Linked DNA regions of Homo sapiens: region 1 is linked to region 2. The links come from fine-mapping of genetic effects on gene expression. A gene starts in region 2. The other region holds a variant in brackets. All regions are shown on one strand. Distances are from middle to middle.

Evidence for each region.
Region 1: its variant is fine-mapped to the expression of DOCK11 in lung (TOPMed, PIP above 0.99). The same link has a PIP of 0.9 or more in whole blood.

Annotation. Positions count from the first base shown.
Region 1 is chrX:118,602,489-118,607,488 of GRCh38, forward strand. DOCK11 (dedicator of cytokinesis 11) reads left to right here. Exons shown (of 53, transcript NM_144658.4): 24 at 2,750-2,868. Among named protein-coding and RNA genes, the nearest start is that of DOCK11, 110 kb to the left of the region's middle. The variant T/C (reference allele first, on the strand shown) is at 2,005.
Region 2 is chrX:118,492,463-118,497,906 of GRCh38, forward strand. DOCK11 (dedicator of cytokinesis 11) reads left to right here and starts at 3,353. Exons shown (of 53, transcript NM_144658.4): 1 at 3,353-3,611. The coding sequence starts at 3,510. RefSeq lists enhancers at 2,691-2,760, 3,163-4,141 and silencers at 3,171-3,310, 3,421-3,500, 3,591-3,650, 3,821-3,880.

The DNA of each region.
Region 1 (5,000 bases), 110 kb after region 2:
CACAAGTGCTGAGGGTTCGGTGAACTGAGGAACTACTGTAGACTAGAGGGCTCCTGTCTTTTTTTTTTTGGAGACAGAGTCTCACTCTGTTGCCCAGGCTGGAGTGCAATGGTATGAACTCAGCTCACTGCAACCTCTGCCTCCCGGGTTCAAGCTATTCTCCTGCCTCAGCCTCCCAAGTAGCTGGGATTACAGGCATGCACCAATATGCCTGGCTAATTTTTGTATTTTTAGTAGAGACAGGGTTTCACCATGTTGGCCAGGCTGGTCTCGAACTCCTGAGTTCAAGTAATCCGCCTACCTCAGCCTCCCAAAGTGCTGGGATTACAGGTGTGAGCTGCCGCGCCCGGCCTACTTTCTTATTTTATTCATTTATTCAGTAAGTCACCAAATATTTATTGACCATGTAGTATGGGCCAGACATTGTTCTGGATGCTATGAATCAAATGGGGAACAGTTTAGACAGCATACCTTTTCTAGTTGTGGTAGAGAGATTATAAGTGAGTGCCATGAAGAAAAGAGCAGGTTAATGAGATCCAACATGACCAGGAGTGTATTCTACATAGAGTTGTCAGGGAAGGCCTATTGGGGGAAATAGCATTTCAAGCTGAAAGGATGAGAGGAAGACAACCTTAGGGGGTAAAGTCGTGTAAAAGGATAACAGAATATCACAGTAGGTGTAAACACCTTACATCAGCATGTTTGAAGGACAGAAAAATAAAAGACCGTGTAGCTATAGTACAGTGTGCATTGTGAGGGGAGGATGGCAAGTGACAGGTTTGGCGGGACAGGCCGGGTATGTCGTAGGCATGGAAGCTTATGATAGCTCTTTGTTCGTGGTAGTTTGTTTTGTTTTGTTTTGTTTTTTAACAACAGAAAGATGGCAATGTCTAATTTGCATTTCAGAAAGAACACTCTGGCTGTCATGTTGAGAATAAATTACAGAGGACTGCTACTGGTAGCAGGGAATGCCCATCTCTCTTTTCTACCTGGCACTATTCTATTTATCATTTACCCTTTCTCATCTCTGAGGCCTTACCAGACATTCCCTACCCACTTGCACACTCAGTTGCTTCTTTGTGCATTTTGTATATTCCATGATCATGCTATTTACTGTTGATATTGCAATTATTTAGTTCCATGTGTTTATCCCCTGTACACTGTGAACTACTTGATGGTAGAAACCATGGCCTTTATTTGTTTGGGTTTACTTTTGTTTTTGGTGTGCTTGGCTATTGGAAGTTCATTTGTTTGCCCTTTGTCGAATGAGAAAATGAATGGTTTCACTGAAGTGGGGATTTGTACTTGCCTTGAAAGAGTAGCCAGGATTTGGCTAAAAACGATGAACAGACACAAAGGCAGGAAAGTATATGATATATTCAAGAACAGTGAAGAAACCAGAGATACCAGTTTGGCCTTGTAGAGAACAGTGATGATTGTTTAGGCTGAAAATGTCAGTTAGGTCTGAAATAACTTGGTCTTGATACTCTACGCCAGGATTTCTCAATCTTCGCACTATTGACATTTTGAGGTAGAGTTATTCTTTGTCCGTGAGGGTCTGTGTGTGCGTCGTAGGATATTTAGCAGCATTGCTGGCCTCTGACCACTAGATGTCAGTATCACTCCCTGGTTGTGACCACCAAAACTGTTTCCAGACATTGCCAAATCTGTCGGGAACAAAATGGCCCCTGGTTGAGAACCACTGCCATAGGCTATGGGGAGACATCGAAAAAATCTTGGCAGGAGGTGGTCTAATGTAACGAGTATTTGAGGAAGATTAATTTAGAAATGAGAGTTGGATGTATGGAGAGTAAAGAGAAATTGTACAGAGACCTGCTAAAAAGAAAATGATTTATACTATTTTGGTTATTGATTAGAGGGTCTTGAAGACAGATAGTGGCAAAAGTCAGGGAATCTGGGAAAGAGAATTTATGAGTTTTTTAAGTACAGAGACTTGATTTATCCACCTCTCTATTTCCCCTAGCACTACACATTGAATTGATA[T/C]AGAAAGATGCTCAGCGAGGTTTGTTTCCTTTTTTTTTTTTTTTTTTTTTTTTTTTTGGTTAGCTGGTTGAGTGAGTGAATGATGTGGAGAGAAGGGAAGAAAGAAGAAAGAAATTGAACAACTTTCACTGTTTGTATTATTTCTCTGTATATATGATCACGTTTCTTCTTTTTGATGTTTGTAACGCACTTATCATTGGAGACACAGTGTTAGCACTTTGAAGGAAATGTATTGTGAGATTCTTAGACTGCAAAAGTGCTTCCGTTTTGTAGTGGTGATGGTGTAGAGCCAATTACATATAGAACCACTCTTTATTGCATTCCACTTAACTTGTCACCAGATTAACTGATGCCCACATTCCCCTGCAGAACATACAGAATGCCTGGGGGTTAGTAGATGCATCTCCAGTATCATCTCCAAACATCTGTTCCTCCCCACTGCCCCAGGCAATTGAGTGTTGGTTTACCAGGAGTCAGTTGTCAATTTTCTAAAAACTGTTTATCCAAATTATACTTATTAGCTTTAGTAAAGTGTTTAATGTTAAATAACAAAATCTGAGTGCCAAATAGAGGTGTGGATTAAGTAATTAACAAAAAAGCCCCCTATCCAATGGAAAGCTCACTTTTAATTGAGCTTATATGCTAGTCAATGTATTTCTCACTACTTAATTTTTTTGCTGTTTCACATTTGCAAATTTTATCATATTTCTGTTTGTTTTCATAACTAATAATGACTTAATTTTAGTGTTTGCATGCCATGGAGATCCAAGTCATGATACAGTTTCTACCTGTAATTCTTATGCAACTCTTCCGAGTTCTCACAAATATGACCCATGAAGATGACGTTCCTATCAACTGCACCATGTGAGTTTTGGTGTTATAATACAAAGATGCTATTTATTTGAGATCTTTCTTATTTTTTAATGGAGGTATTCATTACTATAAACTTCCCTCTTAGAACTGCTGTTGCATTCCATAGGTTTTGGTATGTTGTGTTTTCATTGTCATTTGTCTCAAGATATTTTAAATTTTCCCTTTTCTTTTTTGACTCAGGAACATGTTTAATTTCCACCTATTTTGAATTTTCCACGGTTTCTCCTGTGATTGATTTCTAGTTTCATTCCATTGTGGTTGGAAACAACACTTGATATGATTTCAGTCTTCTTATAATTCTTAGGGCTTGTTGTGTGGCCTAACATATATGGTCTATTCTGGAGACTATTCTATGTGCTCATGAAAAGAATGGATATTCTGTTGCTGTTGGATGGAATGTTCTGTATATGTCTGTTAGGTCTATTTGGTCTAAGTGTAGTTCAAGTCCAATGTTTCCTTATTACTTTTCTGTCTGGTTGATCTGTCCATTGTTGAAAGTGGGGTATTGAAGTCCTCTATTTTTCTATTGCAATATATTTCTCCTTTCATGTTCGTTAATATTTGCTTTATGTATTTAAGAAGATAAATATATAAGTTCCAATTGAACTTTTTCCAATTATGTAAATGTTCTGCACTTGTGTTGTTCAATATAGCAGCCACCAGCCACATGTGGCTATTGAGACTTCAACTGGGGCTGGTTCAGCTGAGGAACAGAATTTTTTTTTTTTTTTTTTTTTTTGAGACAGAGTTTCGCTCTTGTTGCCCCTGCTGGAGTGCAATGTCTCACTTCGCCTCCCGGGTTCAAGCGATTCTTCTGCCTCAGCTTCCCGAGTAGCTGGGATTACAGGCGCCCACCACCATGCCCGGTTAATTTTGTATTTTTAGTAGAGATGGGGTTTCACCATGTTGGTCGGGCTGGTCTCAAACTCCTGATCTCAGGCGATCCATCCGCCTCGGCCTCCCAGTGCTGGGATTACAGGCGTGAGCCACCGCTTCCTGCAGGAACTGAATTTTTAATTGTGTGTAATTTTAATTTTAATCAATTTAAATAGACACAGGTGACTAGGGATGCATATTTAACAGAATGTGGCCCCAAGCCATCAATTTTTACTTGAAAGAATAAGGAAGTATTATTTTTATGTGAAAACAAACAAGGATATATTGTAGAGTAGAATGCAAAATGCACCTGAATTTTGAAATCAAAACAGGGTACTTAAATTGTGGGCTGAGTGCTGGAAGTTTCTGGCTTTGGCTTTGCTGCCTCTGCTGTTGCCACAACCTCTTCCAGCAGGCCTCACACCACAGCCACACACCATTTGCGGGCATCGCTGCTGTTGGGGATAGTGTTGTTGAAAATGGAAGAAACTTTAGGCCAGTGGTTTCCAAAACATGGTTCCCATACCAGTAGCATCAATATCGCCTGGGAACTTAGTAAAATTGTTAATCATTGAGCTTCACTCCAGACCTACAAAATCAGAAATTCCGGGAGAGGGGCTGAGCAATCTATTAAAAGGGCCCACCAGGTGCTTCTGATATATGCTAAACTTTGAGGACACTGCTAGTCTCTTACCCCCAATTATAGTTCATATCATTACACCTGCCCCGGCTCTCCCTTCCTTTTCCCCGTTGACATGCTTTTCATTGCGTCTTTATTCCTTTCCTTTCCTTCTCCTTTCCTTTCCCTTTCCTTTCCTTTTCCTTTTCCTTTCCTTTCCTTTTCCCTTTCCCTTTTCTTTTCCTTTCCTTCTTTTTTTTTTTTTTTTTTTTTTAGGTGGAGTCTAGCTCTGTTGCCCAGGCTGGAGTGCAGTGGTGCAATCTTGGCTCACTGCAACCTCTGCCTCCTGGGGTTCAAGCAATTCTCCTGCCTCAGCCTCCCGAGTAGCTGGGATTACAGGCGCCCACCACCACACCCAGCTAATTTTTGTATTTTTAGTAGAGACAGGGTTTCACTGTGTTGGAAAGGCTGGTCTCGAACTCCTGACCTCATGATCCACCTGCCTTGGCCACCCAAAGTGCTGGGATTACAAGCATGAGCCACCGTGCCGGGCCTTCATTTTTTTTTTTTTTTTTTTTTGAGACAGAGTCTCGCTCTGTTGCCCAGGCTGGAGTGCAGTGGCGTGATC
Region 2 (5,444 bases):
AATATATTTAACGAATGTGGAAAAGAAATCGCCCAATAAAATGCCCTATTGGAAGTTGTAAGATTGCACCTACGATTTCTCTTTACTATGTGAGTGCAGTTATATCCAAATCCTACCCATTCCGCAAAGTCCAGCTCAAATGCTCAAACACCCCCTGTTCCAGAAAACCTTTCATAGACCTAAGAAGATATGATCTCTCCTGCCTTTTTTTTTTCTTTTTTCTTTTTTGAGATGGAGTCTCACTCTTCTTGCCCAGGCTGGAGGGCAATGGTGCAATCTTGGCTCAGTGAAATCTCTGCCTCCCGGGTTCAAGTGATCTCCTGCCTCAGCCTCCCAAGTAGTTGGGATTACAGGTGCCTGCCACCATACCTGGCTAATTTTTGTATTTTTAGTAGAGACGGATTTTGCCATGTTGGTTAGGCTGGTCTCGAACTCCTGACCTCAGGTGATCCACCCACCTCGGCCTCCCAAAGTGCTGGGATTACAGGCATGAGCCACCGCGCTCGGCCTCTCCTGCCTCTTTACCTTGAGTATGGTCTGTATCACATACTACTTTGTACCATAAATACATTCTCTACTAGACTTTCTTTTTTTTTTCCCAGAAGGAAATAGTGTCTTTAATTCATACTGCATTCTCCCTCAGTGTGTAGCACCATGCTCAATGTTTATGTATTTAAATAGAAGTCTTAAACCAGAAGAAGTGAAATCTACAATCTCAAGAATGAGCATAGAGCCTGCACAATGGCCAGATGGTGTTTGTGCACCATCAGTGTGACATATGCTTCCCATGGCTCACAATACTCTGCAGAAATTGCTTACTTCTCCTACTCTATCTTGTACCACTCTTCTTCCTTCTACGCTCCAGCCACACTGGCCTTTTTTTGGTCTTTGAACACACTAAGTCTGCCCCCATCTCTAGGCCTTCGTTCCTGGCATTTCTGTCGCCTGGAATGGTCTACCTGCTGATCTCTGCTGACTGCTTCTTTAAGACTCAGCTCAGTGTTTACCTCCTCAAAGAAGCTTTTCTTGATCATCTATTTTAAACTAGGTCCCCAACTCCAGTTACTCTCTATCAACTCCCCTTAATTCTCTACATAGCATTTATGTTTCTGAAATTAACATGTTCATTTCTTTGCACTGACATGTGAGCTCCAGGAGAGGAGGGACCTTGCCTGTCTTGTTCAATGCTGTGCACCTTCAGTGGCTACCATAGAGCCTGTGGTACTAAGAATGCTTTTGGCTGAAAGTAACAGAATATTCATCTAAACGTGTCATAAACTGCAGGGGTTTATTTTTCTTACATAAAAAGGAACTAGAGGTAGGCAGTATCAGGCCTGGTTCAACAGTTCAATGCTGTCTGGATTCTACATTGGCTTCTCTGAGATTGCCTTGGCCTTGCCTCATGGTTGCAATATGGCTGCCAAGGGCCAAAGCATTGCAAGAAAACATCCCTCTCAGGAAGAAAGTGGGGCCTGGGCCTCTCTCCTTTTTTTTTCATCAAGGTAGAAAAACTTTCCCAGGAACCCTCCTCTCACACTTCCCTCTTATATCTTATTGGCCCAAACCGATTGGGAGTCTAGACCATCCCACTAGTCAATAAGAGGGAGCTTATCATGGTTTTTTCATCAGTCATGATTCATCACCTGGAGTTGGGCCTGCCTTCCTTAAACCCTGTGGCTCTGCCCTATATCTGAAGTAAATCTGGGCTCTCTTTGCAAGCAAAAAGTGTTATAGCTATTGTGGTGGTAACCAACAGCATGAGCCACACAGGCATTTATGGAACAGAGGGTATGAATTCTTGGAGATCAGCCTACACGCAACAATTAACAAATTTTACACGTACTGTGCAAAACTAAGATTTGTGACAGAATGTCTTTAGAGGACTTCCAGGTCCCAGGCCCTCTAGGAGCCTCCATATATGCTTTATTGAGACTGATGGGATGGCTGAAATAGGCTTACTGCGAAGAGACTTGGCCTTTTCTGGGTTCAAAGAAACCATCACCACGCATGCCCTTGTTTCCATAATAAAGTCCCCTAAAAGACTGTTTGGTCTTTGAGGGTGGGGAAAGTGCCCGATGGGTGGTGGTAGGACTGCTTTCAGAAGGGCTGCTCGGTCCCCCAGACTGAGGGCCATTTTCAAACTCTCAACAAATGAAATAACCAGATAGAAAACTGCCACCATCAGTGGAGCCTTTCACTCTGCACTTCAGGAGGTCTGACAGGGTCACTAGTACTTCAAGATTCCCGTCCCTATTTCTGTCTTAAGCATGTTCGTTTTATACCCTGTTATGAGATGTTCTTTGATTCTTGGAAAAACAATTTCTTGGAAGCTGAAAAGAGTAAGGAGATGAATAGGAAATGGAGAGGTGAGTGCAGGGCACTTGTAAAAGCTACTATAAGATTGGTAAGTCCACCAAACCCAGGGAGATGGCCTTCCTAATGCCCACCCCCACCCCACTCCTGGTGCAGTCAGTGCTGACCTAGGGATCACCTGCCACAGGCTCATCCTAATGCCCACCCCCACCCCACTCCTGGTGCAGTCAGTGCTGACCTAGGGATCACCTGCCACAGGCTCAGGCTCCACCACCCAGCTCTCCCCCGTGGGGGACGGAGCGAGGGGTGCCGCCACAATAAGTTCCCACTTCCAGAAGCATGCTCTCTCCCCAGTGTTGCCCCCTGTTAGGTGAGCCAACTGAGTAGGAAAACGGTGTGGGCGAGGAGGGGGACCCAGTCGAGCCGCTCACGCTGGAAAGCAGCTCTCTGTCCTTCGACATTGGTGCGACCCTTCCCCAAGGAGCACACAAAAGGCGGCTGCTCCACGTTGTTTTCCAGCCCCTAGCCGCCTGGGCCCTGGGGGCTTGCGGGGTGGAGGGACGTGAGAGTTCTCCAGCCCTCCTGCGGGCACTGCAGCTCGGAGGCGGGAGAGGAGCACTAGGGCGGGAGAGGAGCACGCCCCACTCTTGGAGACATTTCATCACCCCTCTCTGTTCCCCCACCCCACCCCGCCCTCCCCACTCAAGCGGAAAAAAAGAAGCAGCCCAGATCTCCCCTCCCGGATGCGGCTGCACCAGCAACATCAGCTGCGGGCGGAGCCCGAGCGGTAGCCACTTCCCCCCTCTTCCCTCGTGACCCTCGCCCCCACCTCCAGTTCTCCCTCCCCCTCTACACACCCTTCCCCATCAGACACACCCTCCTGCTTCGGCTGGTGGCGATCGGAGCTCGGGCCCTCTAGGGGAGGGAGCTGCCGCCGCCGACGCCGTGGGGCAGGACAGTGAGCGGGCGAAGCGAGCGAGAAAAGGAGGGAAGGAGGGAACGAGGGAGGAGCAGCGGGTGGGAGGTGGGAGGGAGGAGCAGCGTGAGCCGCGCCGCCGCCGAGCTGCGATGTGGCCGGCCGGCCGGCGAGTAAACAGAGGGAGCAGCAGCGGCCGCGGCCGCCGCGGGCCGGGGCAGTGAGTCCACCCGCCCGCCGAGGTCCGCCCGCCCGCCGAGACCCGCCCGCCGCCGCTGCCATGGCCGAAGTGCGCAAATTCACCAAACGGCTCAGCAAGCCTGGCACGGCGGCTGAGCTCCGGCAGAGCGTGTCTGAGGCCGTGCGGGGCTCCGTGGTGCTGGTGAGTGGCCGGGGGACGGGGCATCCCGGGGGACGCGCTCCAGGCGGGAGCGACGCGGGAAGGGGCAGGAACGGCGCCAGTGCGGCCGCTTGGTGCGCCGCGCGCTGTCTTTCTCCGCTCCAGTAAGTTTTCGCACCGGCAGCCGCCGGCCGGGGTCCGAGTCCCAGGCGCCGGCTGACAGCTCTCCGGCCGCCCGGCACGGCGGAGGCGTGCGCCGGGATGGAAGCAGACGGGCAAAAGCCGGGCTCGGACGGCTGCGGAGGAGGCGGAGGCGGAGGCTCCCACCCAGGGTCGGGGCCGGGGGTGTGAGCTAAAGAGCTGACCTCGCGCTGCTCTGGACTCGGCACAAAGAGCCGGGGACAAGGGCACGACGAGATCCTGATCCCCTCCCGCGAGCACCTGAGGCCGCCTAGGCGGAAGGATGCGATGAGCGTTTGGCACACACACTCTCGCGCGCACACATACACACACTGTGTACACAAAAAAGAACCCCACCCAGAAAGCCCCGGGCGCCCAAGCTCGGGCTGGCGGTGAGAACAGAGGAAGCAGAGCGACTTCCTCCTGCAACTGGGGAGAGAGGGTGGTGATGGGTGTTGAAGGGGTGCTGCTGCGGAGGAAGGGCATTAGAAACAACGGGGTTCTGCGACAGAGTGGGCGCAGGGTCATCCACCGCAGGGAGAGTGTGTCCCTCGGGGACACGCGAGCGCTCCAGAGGCAAGGGGACCAAGGGGACGGTGCCGTGGGGATTTGGGGGAAGACTGGGTGTGTCAGTCCAGGGATGGAGGACCTGGGGTCAGAGCCCCACAGCTCAGGACTGGGGGATGGGGATTCGAAAGCGCGCTGACTCCCTGGGAACCCTCCCAGAGCACCCTCAGCCTTATCCAGATTGTCTGACTCTGGAGAAAGGCTAAAGGGTGCTAACGGGCACTTGCCCCTTCTCTTGTTTTCAAGACACTCGTTGCCAGTTTCCTGGACAAGCGAACAAACCCTGAATAAGCAATCGGACTGATTAATTAGTGTTTGTTTTGTTACTTTGTTTTTTGGTTGTTGTTTTTGTTTGTTTTTGTCTCCCTCAGCTCCATTTTACAGCGAGTCGTTTGCTGTGTTTAAATTTCACCGTTTAAGAGAGGGCTCTTTTTGTTAAAACAACTTGTCATCGGAAGGGAACTTCACAGCTTTTCCTTGTAATTTTTCTGTTGATCTTGTAGAATCAGCAATAAAACCCAGCATTAAAGGGAGGCCAGGGGCTTGATCCCAACAGTGGAGAAAGTTGACATTAGTGGGAGTTCTGGAGGAGGATCAAAGGTAAACTATGTACCTTTGAGATAAAGATCTGATCCCTAATAGCTACAACTGTGCAAACCTAAGTGACTTTAAAGAAATCTCTTTATTGTGGCTAGACCCTTGAAAGTTTAATTCTGCTGTTTAGTGGAGCTAAATCCAGACCTTTAATGTTACTTTAATGGACTTGGCTTGTGTATTTCAGTCTGATTTTGGAGTGAGGACCTGTTGAGGTCAGATTGGAGCCTTGCCTGTCATCACAGCCAGTTAAGAGAGGAAGGCAAGCTGTGTGCAGAGCATTTATACCAGGGCTCTCATCTTGGGTGATTGTTAACACGTGATTCAATCTACCTAGCAGAGAACGCTTTCCTAAATTCAGAGAAAACAAAAAACCTTCCTTGAGCGGGGTTGGCTGGCCTTCTACCACAACACGTGAAGAAAGCTGTAGGTGGCCAGATTTCTCGAGAATAAATGGGACTAAGAAAACTTCCACTGGGATTTGATCAGCACTTGACCTGCCACCCTAGCAGCAAAAAGTTAACATTAGCATTC